Homo sapiens: one gene and its partner. Changing the gene in region 1 together with any one later gene gives a genetic interaction. Each region holds a gene or a part of one and is shown in the gene's direction. Other genes may lie near its edges.

Evidence for each region.
Region 2: of NFIX (region 1) and SKI, changing one enhances a phenotype caused by changing the other (phenotypic enhancement), as found in Homo sapiens cells (one study listed by BioGRID).

Annotation. Positions count from the first base shown.
Region 1 is NC_000019.10:13,073,968-13,083,101, forward strand, and holds part of NFIX (nuclear factor 1 X-type), read left to right. Parts: coding exon 1-59; intron 60-1,567; coding exon 1,568-1,704; intron 1,705-4,645; coding exon 4,646-4,768; intron 4,769-7,712; coding exon 7,713-7,888; intron 7,889-9,134.
Region 2 is NC_000001.11:2,230,547-2,239,680, forward strand, and holds part of SKI (ski oncogene), read left to right. Parts: intron 1-897; exon of another isoform or gene 898-9,134. UniProt on the Homo sapiens protein: May play a role in terminal differentiation of skeletal muscle cells but not in the determination of cells to the myogenic lineage. Functions as a repressor of TGF-beta signaling.

The DNA of each region.
Region 1 (9,134 bases):
TACAACATCAACCAGGTGACCCTGGGGCGGCGGTCCATCACCTCCCCTCCTTCCACCAGGTAAGCCCAGTGGCCCTGCCTTTCCATCTTCTCTCCACTCCCCCCAGGGCCAGGGCCGTCCCAGTGGCTATAGTCAGCTGTGTCACTGAGGCTAGGGTGCTTCAGAATGTCACCTCTCTCATTGAGGGCACTGGCTCTAACACTTTAGAGTCCACCATGCGCAGTCACCCACTGAGCTGCTTTGTGCTGTCATGAAGGACCCAGCCCTGGGGACACAAACTCGCACAAGGCATCGCTTTGCCTGGAAGTGGGAGTCCAAGAAGGTCTCTGTCTTGGGGAGGTGACATTTGAGCCCAGACACAGAGGGGGTTGTTGGGGGGTATGGGGAAAATGTTCCAGGAGAAGAGGGTAGCCTGTATCCCAGTTCAGCCTGCACAGGCTGGCGGGGCACCCTGCAGAGGGCTTTGGAGGCCAGAAGAAGGCATTTAGACTTCATCCCTGGGTAGTGGGGACCCCTGAGGGGTTTTAAGCAGGGGATGCTGAGGGTGTGTGTTCCAGAAAGCTCTCTCCAGCAACAGTGTGTGTGGGCGGGACTGATAGCCAGTTAGGAGGCCATTGGAAAGGCTAGAGTGGGGGAGGGCCTGGAGGGTGGGGTGGATGGAGAGGGAGGGAGCTGCTTGGGAGGCAGGGATGTGGGTTCTGGCCAGGGCAAGTTGTGCTGGGCAGGGTCCACTCCACTTTTTTTTTTTTTTTAAAACGGGTGTTTATATTAATTGCGAGATTTTTGGCATTCATTTTGATTTTTTAAAAATATGGGACTAGGCCAGGCTCGGTGGCTCACGCCTGTAATCCCAGCACTTTGGGAGGCCGAGATGGGCGGATCACGAGGTCAGGAGATTGAGACCATCCTGGCTAACACGGTGAAACCCCATCTCTACTAAAAAATACAAAAAATTAGCCAGGCGTGGTGGTGGGCACCTGTAGTCCCAGCTACTTGGGAGGCTGAGGCAGGAGAAAGGTGTGAACCCAGGAGGCGGAGCTTGCAGTGAGCTGAGATCACGCCACTGCACTCCAGCCTGGGTGACAGAGCGAGACTCCATCTAAAAAAAAAAAAAAAAAAAAAGGAACTAAAATATTCTTTATATTGATGACTGAGTTTTATGGCATTTTTGTCCCCCTGACATTTTTGTCCCTCTGACATTTTTGTCCCTGTGAGTACGTCATTCACCTCACCCTAGCCCTGGGGGCTGCCAGGAAATCATAGGTGGGATACAGGAGGCAGCTGAGGGTTTTGCCGACTTCTCTGATGTGGGCAGCTTGGAGGACCGTGGCATCACAGATTGGGAAGGGGCTTGAGGAAGAGGAGCAGGTTGAAGCTGATGGCTTGAGGGGCCCTAGGGCTGATCTTGGGGTTGGGCACGCAGTGAGTGCCCAGAAATGCTGCTGTCGGCCGGCACCACTCCCCACCCAGAGGGCCATCTATGCACAGTTCTTTAGCCTGGACTCTTGGTCACTCCCTGGAGCCTCAGCCCATCCTTGGCCCATGTGACCCTTTCTTTCTTCCCCAGCACCACCAAGCGCCCCAAGTCCATCGATGACAGTGAGATGGAGAGCCCTGTTGATGACGTGTTCTATCCCGGGACAGGCCGTTCCCCAGCAGCTGGCAGCAGCCAGTCCAGCGGGTGGCCCAACGATGTGGATGCAGGTATGGGTGCGGGGGATCCTGACCCAGAGCAAGGGCAGCCCAGAGTCTTTTTGTCCCCTTCTCAGTTCACCTGGTGAGCCTCCCACCAGTTGTCCCCCTGTCGGGGGGCATTACCCATCTGTTTTCTTGCCTCCTGATCTTCCAGGGAGGGCAGAGCAGGCTGAAGGAAGGGAGTGGAGGTGAGGGTGAGGAGGGGTGCTGTGAGAGTCAGCAGCAGAGCCCGTGGTATGGCGGTGGGAAGCAGAGGGGGTGCCAAGCCTCTGGTGCCCCACAGTGGGATGGCCGCAGCCCCTCCTGGTATTTCTCTAGAGGTTGCCCCACCCCGTGGCCTCATGGTTGAAAGCAGTTTCTCACCCTGGGGGCTCATCATTCTGTGTAGGGGATTGTTCTGTGCATGGCAGGATGTTTAGCAGCATCCCTGGCCTCCACCTACAAGATGCCAGCAGCAAAACCCCCACCCCCAGTTTTGATGACCAAAAACGCCTCCAGACATTGTCAGACGTTCCCTAGTGGGATGGAATCCTCCCAGGATGAGAACCACTGGTCTCAAGGGCCCAGCTTCACAGAGAGAGGCTCAGAGTCTAGTGAAGAATGAGCAGAGTCCTTTTGAGACCAGGTAGGGAAGCTAGCGAAGGGGAGAGAGTACAGAGGAAGCCAGCTCAGACCTTCCCAGTCTCCTCTAGGGATCTTCTTCTTGTTGAACCCACCCCCCTTCACCTCCATTCTTGACTGAGGGTGCAGACAGACCTAGAGAGGACTCTGGAAGACAGCATGTAACACGTGCGTGTGTGTGTGTGCATGTGCATGAGCACATGTGTGTGAGGAGGCTGGCCGCAAGAGTCCCCCGCTGACGTGCCAGTGGTACAGCCCGTGTTTATCCTCACTGTGGGTGTGACAGGGCCTGGGAGTGCAGACTCACGCGTGTGGGTTGTGCACAGGGCATGGCTGCTCTGGACAGGCCTGGGCCCTGGGCATCATTCTCCTCCTCCAAAAGGTGAGGGTCTGACCTAATGGTACTTTGTCTGATGTTTTCCAGATATGCCCCTACTGGGAAGGGCCAAGTGGGCAGGCAGAGTCTGGGGTGGAGCGAGGTGGGGCTGGGAAGCACTCCTGCTTTTCTGCTGCCCCAGAACGAATGCAAGTTCTGGCAGCTTCTCCTCCTCCTGGGAGGAGGAAAGGAGGGCTCGCCTCCAGGCCTCAGGCTGAGGGAGTGGGCTGGAGACCCTCTAGATGGCCAGCAGAGGCTGGCCTCTGTGAGAAGGCTTCCTTGCGTGACTCTGGGGCCCCTCCCAGGCTCTCCTCGTGGCAGGCAGGGACTTGGGCCAGCATGGGCCACATGCTTCCCTAGGGGAGCCTTGAGAGGCAGAGAGAGGAGTTGAGAAGGCCCGGGAGACTCTTGGGCTACATCCTGGGTCCCTGGCCGGGGCCTCAGTAGGTGACCCCTTCTGCAAGGACTGCCCCTGGGGTGCATAGAGGACTGTGTCTGCAGCTGGCTCCTGGGGCAAGGGCTCCTGGGCTCCTGTGCCCAGACCTAATTCCTGAGGAGCCCCCCTCTTCCTGGCTCCTGCTCTCTCCTTTCTTGGCTGTCTGCTTTTGCGCCTGCCATTTCTGCATTTCTGCTCCTTCCGGCAGTCCTGCCACGCACGGCCCCTCAACATCCTCCTGCAGCACCCTCCGGCTCCCTTTTCCCCTCACCCCGCTGTGTGTTGTTTTCATGGGCTGCAACAAATTGCCAATTAAGCAGCCCAGCTGCAGGACAGGGAACAGCTGGGGAGGCACTGTGCGGCCATGGGGACAGCTGTGCACAGCTGGTAGGATGCTCCCCCCTCCCCACTGTGCCAGCTATCAGGTGGCACACAGCTGCTGCCAGATAACACCTCCGCTGGCGGCTGGGAGTTCGCCCTTCCCCCGCCCCTTCCCTCTGCAGTTAAGATGGCTCTTTATTTCTCTGTTCTGCAGCCCCTCCACCCCTCACCCAAACTGACTTGATTTGTCCTCCAAGGGTGGCAGCTGTGAGATCTGCCCCAACTCTACCTTATCCTTCCCAGCCTGGGCACAACCTTAAAGCTCAGCCCAAGATGGGAGCTGATCTTTCCAGAAGAACCTGGCCCCCTGGGGGCCCTGCTTTGTCATTTGGATGCTATGGCCACTGGGCAGAGATGAATTTCTAAAGACAGACTTCAAACAAGGTGTTCTCTGTGCCCTTGTTTCATGCTGAATGCCACCCACACCTCTGGCACCAGAAGCAGGGCAGAGCCCTGAAATTATCCATCCTATGGCAGCTGAGCTTCTGGGTCCCCTGGCTGGGGGAGTCTTCTCCCCTCTGGCTCTGCCTGCACAGCCCGGCTAGGCCTGAGCAGCCCAAGGACTCTCCAGGTCCTCTGGCCTCTGTCCCTGCTCTCTCGCTGGGCATTGTGTCCCTCCTGAGGGCTCATGGCTGTGTGCTCCCTTCCCTAAACGGGGCCCTGGCTTCTTCCCACCAGAACCTCCCATGGCCCCGGGCACCATGGCATAGACCCCAGCCTGTCCCTCCCAAACTTACCCCTTCCCGGCTCTCAAGCTGGCGCCCTGGGGTTCCTCCTGCACTCCTTTCCCAATGTTGGTCCTGCATCCCACCCTTTCACTTCATTACCTGCTTGCCAGGGCATAGGCTGGGGCCCTTGCTCACCCCCTGCCTGGCACACACCACCCCACATTACCCAGGGGCCTCGTTTTCCTCTCTGGTTAGAAGCACCCCTTGGCTGGCCTACACACAGGGCCTCGGAACCAGGCCTAGAACAAGGCCTGGGACTGGGCAAGGAGCAGCAGGAGGGAGCACAGTGGAGGAAGGGGCAGTGGGGAGGGGCTGAGGAGAGAAGGAGCGAGCTGCTGGCTTCCCGCCTTCCCCGCACCCACCCCAGCCCAGCTAAACCTGCCCTGTGTTGCTGCTTCCTCCCCCCAGGCCCGGCTTCTCTAAAGAAGTCAGGAAAGCTGGACTTCTGCAGTGCCCTCTCCTCTCAGGGCAGCTCCCCGCGCATGGCTTTCACCCACCACCCGCTGCCTGTGCTTGCTGGAGTCAGACCAGGTGAGAAATGGGGGGCCCCGGAGGGGGGCAGTTGGGGAGGTGGCTGAGTATCTAGGGGCAGCTGGCCAGGTGAAGGGGCCAGAGCTGACCCCGAGTGACAGCCCCACGCTCTCCAAGTGGGCCAAGGTGCAGCAGCGGGTGGGCATGGGAGCCGGCCCCTGCTTCACGTAGCACCTCATCGAGGACCAGGCCGGGCCCCTGGGCTGCCCACCTGGCTCCTGAGCAACCTCCCACTTCTCACTCCTCACGTGCATGGGTGCTACATACAACACAAGCCTGTCCCGAGTCCTCCCCAACTCTGGCCCAGTTCTCCTTTTGTCCTGCCAGCTGTGAGCGGGAAGGCACAGCCTTCTGCTCTGCCTTCCTGCCGGCTCCTCTCTCCCAGCTCCTGGCTGAGCCCAGGCTCTGGATTTTTGCCAGCATGAGCCCAGGTTGATGTGGGGCCTGGATGGAGAAGAGTACTCCTAAGGAGCCCAGGCTCCTGCGGCAAGTAGCTACCTTGTCTGGGCCTCCCTGCCGCTTTCTAGAAAGGAAGGGCTGGGTCTAGGGGACAGGTGGTACCTGGGCTGCTCCCCAGGAAAAGGAACTGCCCACTGCCGTGGGGCTGCTCTCTGACTTCAGTGTCCCAGTTGAGAAGGTGCTCAGGATGAGAACACCTAGATCGCCCTGAGGAGATAGGATCAGGCAGGAGGCTGTGGGAGCTGAGACCTCAGCCCTGTCACTCCTTCACTTTCTTCTTCCCTCTCTGGGCACCCACCTGGCAGCAAGAGGCCTGGACTTTTTCTGGATATGGCCCTATGTCCGCCTGCCATCTCCTGGGCTCGTATGTAGGACACAGAAAATGAGGAGGTTTACCTCCTGGCTTCCTCCTTGGGGCCTCCTGGCTGGGAGCCCAGAGGCAGCCGGTGCTGGGGCAGGGTGTGGTGGCCGCGAGGTGGGGGTGGGGAGCCCAGGCCCTCTACACAGGCAGCAGGAGGGCGCAGGCCTGGCTCCTCCGGCTCCACCTCAGCTTTTATGAACTCCAGAGAGAAGCCAAGTTTCCTCAGCCCCCTAATGAAACCGAGAGCAAGAGCGAGCTGATTGGAAACAGACGGGAGGAGGAAGAGCTGGGGCCTGCTCTGGGTTGGGAATTGCGTGTGCAAGGACGCGTATGTGAGGACACGTGTGTGAGTGATGAGGCTGAGCACATGAGAACACCGCCTAGGTGGCGGTGGCTGGGTGCACACCAGCTCGCACTCAGGAGATGTGTGTGCATATGTCAGACGGCCATCCTGAGCAGATGCTGGCTTTGTCTTCATCCAGAGCCCCAGGGAACCCTCTGCCTCCTCTTGTCCCCCACCCAGTCTCCCACCCAGGGCCTGAATTAAGGCAGGGCTAGTGAGGCACTCACCTTAGGTGCAGAGTGTCAGCAAGTATCAAAAACTCAGTCATCAAGATAAATAATATTTTAATGGAATATGTTTTAAAATCCAAACTATTGCAAAAAAAAGGGTATGGTAAGCAAACACCAGTTTTTTTGTTTGTTTTTCTTTTTCTTTTTTCAAAGACAGTTTCCTGCTCTATTACTCAGGCTGAATGCAGTGGCACGATTATAGCTCACTGAAGCCTTGAACTCCCAGACTCAAGTGATCCCTCCTGTGTGCCACCCTGGCTAATTTTTAAATGTTTGTTGTAGAGACGGGGTCTTGTTATGTTTCCCAGGCTGACCTCCAACTCCTGGATCAAGTGATCCTCCCACCTTGGCCTCCCAAAGCACTGGGATTACAGGTATGAGCCACAGCACTCAGCCATGTCTTTGTTTAAAATGGTTTAAAATGTTGAGGCTGGGCACAGTGGCTCATGCTTGTAATCCCTGTACTTTGGGAGGCCAAGGCAGGAAGACTGCTTGAGGCCAGGAGTTCGAGGCTGCAGCGAGCTGTGATCATGCCACTGCACTACAGCCTGGATGACAGGGCGAGATCCTGTCTCTATTTAACAGATACTGGCTGGGCGCGGTGTCTCACGCCTGTAATCCCAGCACTTTGGGAGGCTGAGGTGGGCGGATCACAAGGTCAGGAGATCGAGACCATTCTGGCTAACACGGTGAAACCCTGTCTCTACTAAAAATACAAAAAATTAGCCGGGCGTGGTGGTGGGCGCCTGTAGTCCCAGCTACTCGGGAGGCTGAGGCAGGAGAATGGCGTGAACCCGGGAGGCAGAGCTTGCAGTGAGCTGAGATCGCACCACTGCACTCCAGCCTGGGTGAGAGAGCGAGACTCAGTCTCAAAAAAAAAAATTCTTTAGGCTGGGCACAGTGGCTCATGCCTGTAATCCCAGCACTTTGGGAGGCCAAGGCAGGCAGATCACTTGAGCCCAGGAGTTTGAGATTAACCAGGACAATATGGCAAAATCTCATCTCTAGAAAAAAAAAAAAGCAAAAATCTACCAGGCCTGGTGGCGTGCACCTGTAGTGCTGGTTACTTGGGGGGCTGAGGTGGGAGGATTGCATGAGCCCAGGAGGATTGCTTGCCGTGATCCGTGTTTGTGCCACTGCACTCCAGTCTGGATGACAGAGCGAGACCCTGTCTCAAATAATAATAATAACACTTTTTTAAAAAGCCAAATAAAATAAAGACAAGATCCTACCCTGCCTCATCTGCCTCATCCTAATCTCCCAGCGCTGGTTGTGATCAAACTTTATTTACAAAAACAAATGGCTGGCCTTTGGACCCTAGTTTGCCTATTTGATTATTATTATTATTATTATTTTTGTATTGCATTAAAACATCATGGATCCTGATGACTGACTTTTTTGTGCCGCCTTAACTTTTGTGCCTGTGGCGGCTGCCTTACCTGCTCAGGATCCTCAGGACCCTCTGACCGGCAGCTCCCCTCCTCTCCTGTCCCTCCCACTGGCTGCCTCCTTGGCCCTGACGCCCTTTTTTCCCTGCCCACGTGCATGCAGGGAGCCCCCGGGCCACAGCATCAGCCCTGCACTTCCCCTCCACGTCCATCATCCAGCAGTCGAGCCCGTATTTCACGCACCCGACCATCCGCTACCACCACCACCACGGGCAGGACTCACTGAAGGAGTTTGTGCAGTTTGTGTGCTCGGATGGCTCGGGCCAGGCCACCGGACAGGTGAGTCCAGAGGGCCCCAGGAGCCCGGCTACAGCCTCATCTCCACATCTATCTGTCTGTCTCAGGGCTCACAGGGAGAGGGCCCAAAAGCCAGGAGCCCACCTGGGGCTGGAGCAGCAGGGAGCTGGTAGTACCAAACGCCTCGATTTTCTGGGTCTGGGGACGGGGGTCTGTGTATTATGCCAGGGCTTGTCTATCATGGTCCGGAGAGGTGGGGGCAGCATCTGGGCCCCCTTGCTCAGTCAGGCTCCTTGCCTTTCCCATGGTCCTTGCCCCCTCAGCAGGAGTGAACTCATGATGATCCAACCCGGATCTGGGCCCTGACCTCCCAGCGCTCCTCTTAAACCTCGGGGCTGCAAGGATTTGCTAGATTCTAGACCAGGGTTTCCCCAGTATCAGCACTGTTGACATTTGGGGCTGTTTATTCACTATTGTGTGAGACCATCCAGTGCTCTGTAGGATGTTGAGCAATATCCCTGGCCTCCACCTGCTAGATGCCAGGAGCACCTCCTCCTCCCCAGTCTTGATAATAAAAAAAAGTCTCCAGATTTCAGTGTGCCCAGGAGGGGAAGACCATCCCTAGTGAGGAGCACTGTGTCAAGGGAAAGCCCCGATCCACATAGCTGCCACGGAGACTCCTGCTGGCAGGACTTTTAACAAAGGGTTCCCAGGACGGTCCTGGTTCTAGAGTGAAACCCTGCTGCTCCTCAGCCCTGGGAGACACACTGGCTCCCCCCAGAGCCCTTCTCTGTCACTGACAGAAACTCAGGGTTGCTCAGCGAAAGAATGATCCCAGGAGGTGGTGGGCCAGAGATGACCCTTCAGTGGGACAACGGTCCCTGGTTGGAATGTGGAGGTTTCTAGACCTCTGGGAAAAATCCAGAGCCTCAGCAGCATGCTGTAATAGGAGAAGCTCTAGCTCCTCTGTAGCCAGCCCTCCCAGCTTGGAAGCCTGCTGCGAGAGGTCAGGCAGGGAGGATGCTCAAAGGGCTGTGGTGGGGAAAGGCATCCCGGAAGCCCACACCAGAGGCTGCCTGCTGCCACCAGCCCCGTGCTGCCTTGGTGTGCTCTGGCAGAGCGAGCATTTGCTAAGTGCTGGTGTATTGATTTGCGGCGGGGCCGTGGCTCCGCCTCCTCACTCTGTCCCTAAGGGAAGCCAGTCCTCTTCCCTCCCTCCTGTTCCCCTCCTGCTCCTTTCCTCCTCGTCTCCCTTCTCCCTTTGCCCATCGAGGGTTTCTCTTGGCTG
Region 2 (9,134 bases), on another chromosome or scaffold:
AAACGCAGAGGGGTGCGCCGGAGAGGGAGGCTGCTGGCCTGGCTTTGTTGTTTGCCAGTTGGAGGATCTATGGGATCCGGCATGGGCAGCTCCCAGGCCACGAGGTGCCGAAATTACTCAGTGGGGTCCTCAGGAACTTTCCGTTGCGTACCTCCCCAAGTATTTGTAACTTTTCTTTTAAATATCCAGGCTTATTAAATTGCACACACAGAATGCTGCATTGGCTCAGCTATTCTTGGGAGGCCTAATTAATTCAGCTATTGCATCAAACTTTTTTTTTCTAAATCTGTGAATAGATGCTCCAGCCCGGTTTTCTCTGGGCGCCCCTCCAGCAGAGTGTCAGATCGTGGGGAGGAGGGGCTGTGGATGGAAGCGAGGGACTGTCGCCTCTGCTCGGAGGGGGCTGCGGAGGGTGCATGTGTGTGTGCATGTGTGTGTTTGTGTGTGCGCGCTTCTGACCCTGCCAGGCCAGGGCTCAGGTGGCAGCCGCCTGCAGACCTGTGGGCTGGGGAAGGATGCTCGTGGCAGAGCTGCAGACAGACGTAGCAGGCTGGGGCCCTTCGTGTCACACGGGGAGTTGGTTGGGGTGGGCCCGATGGCGCTCCCTGTGGGCTGGGGCCTTTCTTTTTGGGGTGGCCGCACCCTCGTCAGTGCCTGTGGCTGGAGGAAGCCACATGTCGGGGGGGATTGTGGGCTCGTGCAGGCTGCGTAGTGGGTCACCTGTGGCCAAGGCCTGAGCTGCTGGGACACGCTCACGTCACTGTCTTCAGAGCTGATGGCAGAGGATCTCGGTTGAGCAGGGTGTGTCTGCGTTTGTTTTTGTCCGACTGTGGGTCATGTGTGTGCTTGTGGTCTTTCTGTCTTCCTGGGCTTTGCTGGGGGCCCATTGGAGTGGCCAGTGGGGCCTCGTTGTCACAGCTGACACAGAGCAGGGCCCAGGCCACCCGGCTTCTCTCTCCCTGTGGTTGTGAGCGCCGGGGTCCTTGGGCCGCCATAGAGACAGGCCAGACAGGCTCTGGTCATCTCAGCGGATGCCTCCGAGCCGCCTTTCCCTTTTGAAGTCCCCAGCACTGCTCTGAAATTTCATTTACCGATTAAAAAGCAATTCCCAGGCCATACTGACGACGTGCACGGTGTGAGTGACTGCGTCCTCTAGGCCTGAGTGGCAGCCACACAGCCTGGCCCTGGCAGTGGTGTCCTCCGCCTGGCTCCCTGAATGTTCACCAGCTCCTGCGGGTTTTCCTCTCCTCATGCTCCTGGGGGTGGGGCACCCATCCTGCCCGTGTTGCCTCCTGCTCTATGTTCTTGACGTGGGATGGCGGCCAGGGACTCTGCCCTCGCTCAGTGCCTGCCCTTTAGGCTCTGTGACTGTGCACTTGGGAGTTCTGGGCTTCAGGGTCCCCTTAAGTCTCCTCAGGACAGCCGTGTGCGTGTCTCTGTGTGCACAGGAGCGACACATGAGAAGGGAGTGTGGTCTCAGGGTGGGCGTGGACCCACAGTGCCCAGACCCTACTTGTCCTAGAAGGAGTGGCCTGGGAGGCCCCGCCTCCGCCCTCACTGGCCGCCGTTGGCTCCTCCCACTCGTGTCTTGACAGCTTATTCTCGGGATATGTTTTGATTTCTTCACTTCCTTTGTAGCTTATTTTAATATTTTTGATCTGCCGAAGATGAGGGCAGAACAAAGAATGTACTGGAACTCTCTTTGCAGGGCTGCTGCTCCCAGCAGGCCTTCGGGCTCTGCGGAGCCGGAGGGGGCTGAATTGCCTTCCGGGTGTTTGTGGCCAGGCCAGGGTCGGGTCTCCTGCCTGAGTGGGCTGGGTCAGCGCCACTCTCCTACCCATGGTGGGAGGTGGGAGAGGGCGGAGATGTTCCCGGGTCCCAAACCAAGTGGGAGGCAGGGCTGCAGCTTTCTCCTTGGAAGCCTCCTGTGACAGCGGCTGTGCCTGAGCCTCTGGCCTGTCGGCAGTGCAGTGGCAGCATGAGGGGCAGACAGTCTTCCTCCAGATGCCCCCTCATGTCACGGGGTTACAGAGGAAGCCTCCGCTTCTGTCCAGTGGCTGTCGGGCCCGGCCAGCTTCCTGCTGCTGTATCTTGGAAGACCATGTGGGCTGCATGGGTGCTTGGCGAGTCTCCTCTTAGGGACCCTGGGGCTGCTATCCTTGACAGGGGACCTTGTCTCACCTCCCCACTCGGTCCCACACTGGCTTTGTGACCTTGGACGAGTTGCTTAACCTCTCTGCCTCAGTGTAAACTGGGGACTACTGTTTATTGATCTTGGACTTTATGTTTTGAGTGGTACAGGTGGGGCACAGATGGGTCATTGTGCTGCTGGGAGCACTTAGCCAAGACTGGAGCCTCTGAGCCTTCCCCACTCCCACCCCTCTTTCTTCTTTCCGGTCGGCTCGCCTCCTTCCTCGGGTTCTCTGATAGCTGTAGGACTCCATTGGACTACATTTTTTTGTCAGTATAGACAGCTGTCAGAGACGGAGACAAAATGTGGCAGTTGGAGCTGCCGCTTGGCCTGCTGCCTGGGACGCGGCCCCTTGTCCCGCAGAACGTCAGCCAAGCGCTTTCCGTGCAGGCTGATAACAGGGTGGTGCCGTGCTTCCCTTGGGCCGTGGCAGGATCCTGCTCCAAGGGGGGGTCCTGCTCCGAGGGGGCCGGGGTTTCTGTTCCAACAGGGCTGGTGGGGGGGGTCCTGTTCCCAGAGGTCCGGGATCCTGTTCTGAGGGGGCCAGGGTCCTGTTCTGGGCCGGGGGTCCTGCTCCGAGGGGGCCGGGCGTCCTGTTCCTAGGGGCGGTGGGCTGCCTGTGTGAGAGCTGTTCTTCACCTGCCACGTGCAGTCTGGGCATTCTGGTGACTGGAGAATTTGGGTTGTGTTACAGTGTTGTTGCTCTGTCCTGCAGATGCCTGAATTCCCAGGGGTCTTGCAGGTCCCCTTGCCCTTGCGCTGTGTGGGCTGGCGTGGGTCTCAGTGGGCTGTGGGTTGAGGGTCGCTTGGTTGGGAAGCTCTGCGCGCTTCCCAGTGGAGGGTCCGCGACGGGGGTTTTCTGATCCCTCATGCTGGCTTTTGACCCGTGTCACTGCAAGGCTGCCCCTGGCCCCAGGCAGCGTTTCTTCAGGCAGGTGCCCAGCCAGGTGGTCGGGCTTGAGACCTTTGAGTCTCGAGGTCTGTTCTGGGGAATGACTGAGCTTGTGGAGGCCAGGAAGGGGTTGCTGGGCTTGGAGAGCCTCTGGGGAGGAGTTGTGTTTTGCTCTTTGCTGTTTTAAGCTGAAATGATCACAGGAAGGGACAGCATCAAGAGTTTCTTTCTGGGACACCCCTCACTCAGCTCAGCGGCCGTGTGTGGGTTTGGGGCTGTGCTCTCCCAGACACCCTCAGGTCCGGGGAGCACTTCGGGGGCTATCTGTCCCTTTGTCCACCAGCTTCCTTTGGAAAAAGTGTTTGCTGCAAGTGTTTTTCTCCAGCTTTTCGTGGGGTTCCCTGTAGTCTTGGGCCATGCTCTGGGGTCAGGCTCCCGGCAGGCCCTGGTCCCCGTGCAGAAGGCCAGGGTCTGCGGGTTTGGGCTGGTCTGCCCCCCAGGTGAGGGTTCCGGAAAGACGGCCGGCTGCTGAGTCTTCTCAAGCAGGGGAAACAGCAGCTCGAGAGTGGTTCTTGACCTCTGCCCACCCCAGCTGGCTGTGCACGGACTGGGGAGGGCATGGGCAGCTGCCCCCAGGTGGCTTCTGCAGGGAGCAGAGCTTAGTGGTCATTTTCCCGGCATGGTCTGTCATCCGTCTGTCTGGGACCCCTCTGGGAGCTGGGCTGGGTCCCTCGCCTTCTGGGGCAGCAGGGTCACGGTGGGGGGGCTAGTCCTCTCTTTCAGCATCTTGTTTCTCAGCCGTCCCTGCGGCTATTTGTGCAATGTCTGTCTGTCTGAGTCTCCGGGTGAGGGCAGACAGGATATGGTGCGAGGAAGTCTGGGGTAAGTGTGAGCCGAACCCCGCCCTGGAGTCTCTCGGGGTTGTGGGGCCACAGCCCCAGCTTAGGTTAGGCCTTCACTGCTGCTGGCAGGGCCTCCAGAGAGAAGGCGGTGGTTCCGGGGCCTGGGCCCTGACTGTCTGGCAGGAGGTGTCCACGCCGGCGGCCCGGCTCTCTGTGGCAATAATGTGTCTCTTTCTAAGGATTGCGAAAGTTGAGGGAGGATTTCTCCACTGGAAGAATTATGCAAGCTTCAACTGAAATGTTTTTAAAAAGTTTCTTTGTTTTGAGTCAAAATACAGAAGGTGAATTATTTCCCTAATATCTGGGAGAGCTGGAAAAGAAGGCCCCTGTCCTTATTCTTCAGGGCTCTTCCCCTCCTGAGCAGTGGTCACCAGGCCAGGGTGTCATGGAGGGGGGGCTGCCTGGGGACCAGCTCTTTACACCTGGCCTCCAGAGCGGGTGGTAGGGCGGCTCCTTCCTGCCCTGCCCTGGCTGTCACCCTCGTGGTCTGGAGCAGGGTTTTTTTTTGTTGTTATTTTTTTTTTTTTTTGAGACAGGGTCTGTTTCTGTTGCCCAGGCTGGAGTGCAGTGGTGCGATCTTGGCTCACTGCAGCCTCCGTCTCCTGGGTTCAAGCGATTCTCCTGCCCCAGCCTCCTGGTAGCTGGGATTACAGATGTGTGCCACCACACCCAAGTAATTTTTTTGTATTTTTAGTAGAGATGGGGTTTCACCATGTTGGCCAGCCTGGTCTCGAACTCCTGACCTCAAGTTATCTGCCCACCTTGGCCTCCCAGAGTGCTGGGATTACAGGCATAAGCCACTGTGCCTGGCCCCTGGAGTGGGTTCTGCCACGGAAGGCATCCCCGGGGTCTGCGGGCTGGAGGGGTCGCCCCCACTGTGCCACCTGTTCTCTCGAGGCCTGGTTGCCCTCTGCAGACCAGGTGCCATGCCAGGTGACCCTCAGGAAGCTCTGGCTCACCCCGGGGGCTGGGGGGCATGATAAGCGATAGCTCTTAGGTGCTGCTGCTTTGTGAATATGAGAGAGTTCCAGAAGGGCCCCGCTTCCCAGAGCCTGCATGTTGGTTTCACTGTGTGGTACTTGATATTTTTCCAGGCTGCCTTGCTGGGGTGGCCTCGATGGGGGGCCCAGGGAGCCTCCAGCTCTGGGGACATGCTGCCACATGAGCCTGCTTATTTACGAAAATGAAGAACCAGGACTTGAGTGTGAATTTTAAATGAGATTGTGGGGACAATAGTAAAATCCAGACTAGGACCAGATGGACTGAGCACCTGCGTTGGCCATGGCCCGGAGGTGGCGTGGTGGTGCCTGGCGCCTGTGGCCCTCAGCATGTGTCCTGCCGGCCGCCTAGTAGGCCTTCGCTTGAAGTGCTTATTCCTTTGAGTAATGCTCCTGTCTTTTGTTTGGGGGGAAACAGATAAAGGGGGCTTTGAGAGGCGTCTCGGCGTGATCCTGGGAAACGGCCGAGATTCTGTTCGGTGCTTGGTGTTCGTGTCTTCTCTGATTTTACCTTTTTGACTCATAAAGATGGAAGGAGTGCTCTGCCTCGGTGCCTCTGCAGCTGCAGATGCTGAATCGGGGCGTTTAGGCCTGCCTCTTGGGCTGGCACACCTGGCGGCCTTGGTCAGGCCTTCTTGGGCTGCCTCTGCTGGGGTGCTTGTCTCACTGGCCGTGGGGGTTGTTGCCTGTGTGGTTGTGTTGCTGGCTTCAGGGGCTAGGGTTAGGGACGCCTGGTCACGTCTGGGTCCCCAGTTTGGGGGCCAGATTCAATAACTCACTGAATGACTCAGTGGAACTCTGCAGGCACTGGCAGTCAAGGTTTATTGGCAGGTCCATTCTTTGGCTAGAAGGAGAATGCTGTTTCTTTTCTCACTGTTTCACCATTTTTTTTTTTGAGATGGAGTCTTGCTCTGTTGCCCAGGCTGGAGTGCAGTGGCGTGATCTCGGCTCACTGCAACCTCAGCCTCCCGGGTTCAAGCAATTCCCCTGCCTCAGCCTCCTGAGCAGCTGGGACTACAGGTGCGTGCCACCACGCCTGGCTAATTTTTTGTATTTTAGTAGAGACGGGGTTTTACCATGTTGGCCAGGATGGTCTCCATCTCCTGACCTCTTGATCTGCCCACCTCGGCCTCCCAAAGTGTTGGGATTACAGGCATGAGCCATTGCGCCTGGCCATTGTTCCACCTTTGGAAGAAATTGGTTCACCGTCTTCTGACCTGGGGGGCGCTTCTACCCTGGTTCCATATTGAGGGCTGGGAAGTTGCTGGAATATTATTACCCTTGGCTGGTGAGGCTGAGTGCTGATGCTCCTCCCAGCTCTCAGCCCTGCCTGGACCAACTGCGGCTTCTGCTGGAACGTCGGCGGCTGACTTAGAAAGAAACAGCTCCTGTTCTAGGCTTCCTGCAGGTCCCACGGTGCTGCTTGTTTCAGAGAAACGCAGCTCAGGCTGGCGGCCTCAGGTGGGCATGGGTGGCAGGGGATGCCATCACCCAAATCAGGGATCTTTCTCTGTCCTGAGGGTTCCACCCCAGGACCCAGGGCACTAACTGGGTTCTTGTGTGGCCCTTCCCGACCAGACCTGACCCCTGAGCTGCGTGTGTGAGGTGATGGTGACTCCACGACAGCTTGTGTGCCGTTATGGGGGCACCTGAGGACTGGCTGACCTCACCGGGAAGTGCGTCAGGAGTGGGTGAGGGGTGGTGGGAGGGCAGGGAGCGCCCAGCAGGTGTCCAGCGGTGCTGGCGCTGCCTCTGTCTCTCTGTCCACGCCCTGTGTGTATCTGGAGTGGCTTAGGTGCTCCCTGCGGTGCTCCTGGCTGCTGTGGTTCCTGAAGGCTGCGGCTGTGCCGGTGGTTTCCTTTGATGTCAGTCTTCTTCTACAGGGGAAACCATGTTGCCAGGAGAGCCAGGTGTCCGCTAATTACGTTGTGTTGTTCTGCCCAGGAGTGAACCTGTAAGTGATGAGAATAAGAAGCGGCTGTCAGCCTGCAGACCCGCCCTCACCCTGTCCTGGTTGGGGTGCTGCCTGCTGGGAACCCCTGGTCCAGCTGTTGAGAGGAGGCTGACTGGGGGCACAGTTGTTGCAGAGTCTGATGCAGGCTTTCTCTGCCGGGAAAGTAACATGGAAACATTGTTGCTTTTACTATGGAGCAGATGTATCTTTGCCCAGAAACAGAAATGCTCTTGGTTTCTTTTTTTGGAAATAAGGCCCATAGGCTGGGTCCTTCTTGCCCTGTTGAGGGAACGTGTCTGTCCTTAGCGTGGAGGCCAGTCTGGCCGGGTGCTGAGCTCGTCCTGCAGAACACGCGTGAACGCCTCATCCCTGAGGGCCCCGGGAGGCTGGCGCCCTCTGTGGGAGGTCTGAGGTTGGCCCATTTGACCCTATCCAGGACGGGTTACTTAAGGAGTCCAACGGGCCTTGAGAGGCTGATCACCCTCGTGTGGCGGGCGTCTCTCCCCGGTGCCCTCCCGCCTGGTGCTGTCAAGGGCTTCTCTGTGCCAGGCGCTGGGCTGTGGCAGCCCCAGGTCCCCGCCTGGTGTGGCTGCCCACGGTCCAGGCAGCTCCAGGGTGGGCATCCTTGGCTCCCTCCCTCACCAGCTGGCCCTGGGAGGTCTGTCTGAGAGGAGTTAGGCCTCATTGTCCGTGCTCAGAGAACCCGAGCCTTCCTTAGGAAGCAGTTTGTCCCCGTGCCTCCCTTCAGGATCCTGTGGCCTGAGAAGCCTCTGCGTGGCAGTGGATGGCAGCTCCAGCTGCCCGTGGCCCTCTTTTTTTATGGTTTCCCAGATGACTGGGCCAAGCTGGGCCTCTGCATCCTAGGCATGCTGTTCCCTGCGCTTCCCTGGAAGGTCGGCGGCCCTGCGTGGACCTACACGGTACCCAGGACAGGCCTGCCATGGCACCGGTTGGGCCTCTGGGCACAGGGTGCTCTGCCTCCATGGCCCTGACAGGCTCTGATGCCTGAGGATGGGGGCCGGGCACTCCCAGCCTTGAGACTTCCCTCTGCAGAGGTGGCACAAGCCCGGGGCCCCAGAGTGAGGGGACTCTTGCCTGCCTGGTGAGGGTGAGCGTGGGGTCTGGACTCTGACCCCTGGTCCAGGCGGGAGAGGAGCACACTGGACAGGGCAGCCGAGCCACCCTCTGCGGAGCTGTGGACACTGCGTGTGTGGTGCTGAAGGTGTACACGTCCACTGAGGCCACCTGCGCCGCTGCCTGTGTCCTGTGGGCTGGCACTCACCGAGTGAGAGCTGTGTGCAGAACCTCCGCTGTCAGCGGGCCAGGCCACACTGGGGAGGGAGGTATTCCGTGTGCTTGCACTGAAGCCTGCCCCAGGCTGCCTTCTGGGTTAGGGATACCCAGGACCTCCATAGCTGGTGTGGCGTCTGTGAGATCTCAGCTGCTGCTTCCCTGGACGCCCGTGTGGACCTGGAGGGGGGTGGGGACCCGGCCTGGCATGGTCCCTGGCCACCTGCCTGGTGCTCCGGGTTGTGCCGTTGGCAGTGCCTTCGCTCTGCCTCACCTGCTGCCTCCGCCTTTCCTGGCTACAACCCTGTTGCCCAAACCATTAAAAAAATTATACTACCAAGTTGAATGATATGCAAATGTAGTCAATTAAGCGAGGGGATTTTAATTAGCAGTTTAAGTTCATGTGTGAAGTGCCTTGCCTTAATTACTTGACAGTTTTGTTGTAAATTTGCTAAGTTTTTTTTTGCAGAACTATCAAAACTGTGATTTTTGTTAACATTCTTGGATGCGGTGAGTGGCGCCCAGCTTGCCTGACCCTAGTGGGTTTTGTCTTAATTTATAAAGCTCTTTAAACTGTGAAAACAAGGTAAACCCCCTGGGTTGCCTCTGTGTGGCTCTTCGAGTCAAGCCGGGCTCGATGTCTTCCTTGTCACTGGCTGGGGTGGGGACCTGCCTCGTGCGTGGTCTTGAGCTCCCGTTGGGGGAACGGGAGAACCTTCATCCCATGTGGGTGTAGCCGTTGGCGGCACCTTTGTACGGGGACACACCCTGGACCTGAATGGAGTCAGGAAGGGTTTCAACCTGGATGGCCCGCGTGCCGGGGACCCGCAAGGTGTGCAGTGGCAAGGGCCGGTCCTGGTGGCGGGCTCCCTGGTGATGCTGGTGGATGGTTGTGCGTGGGCCTTGG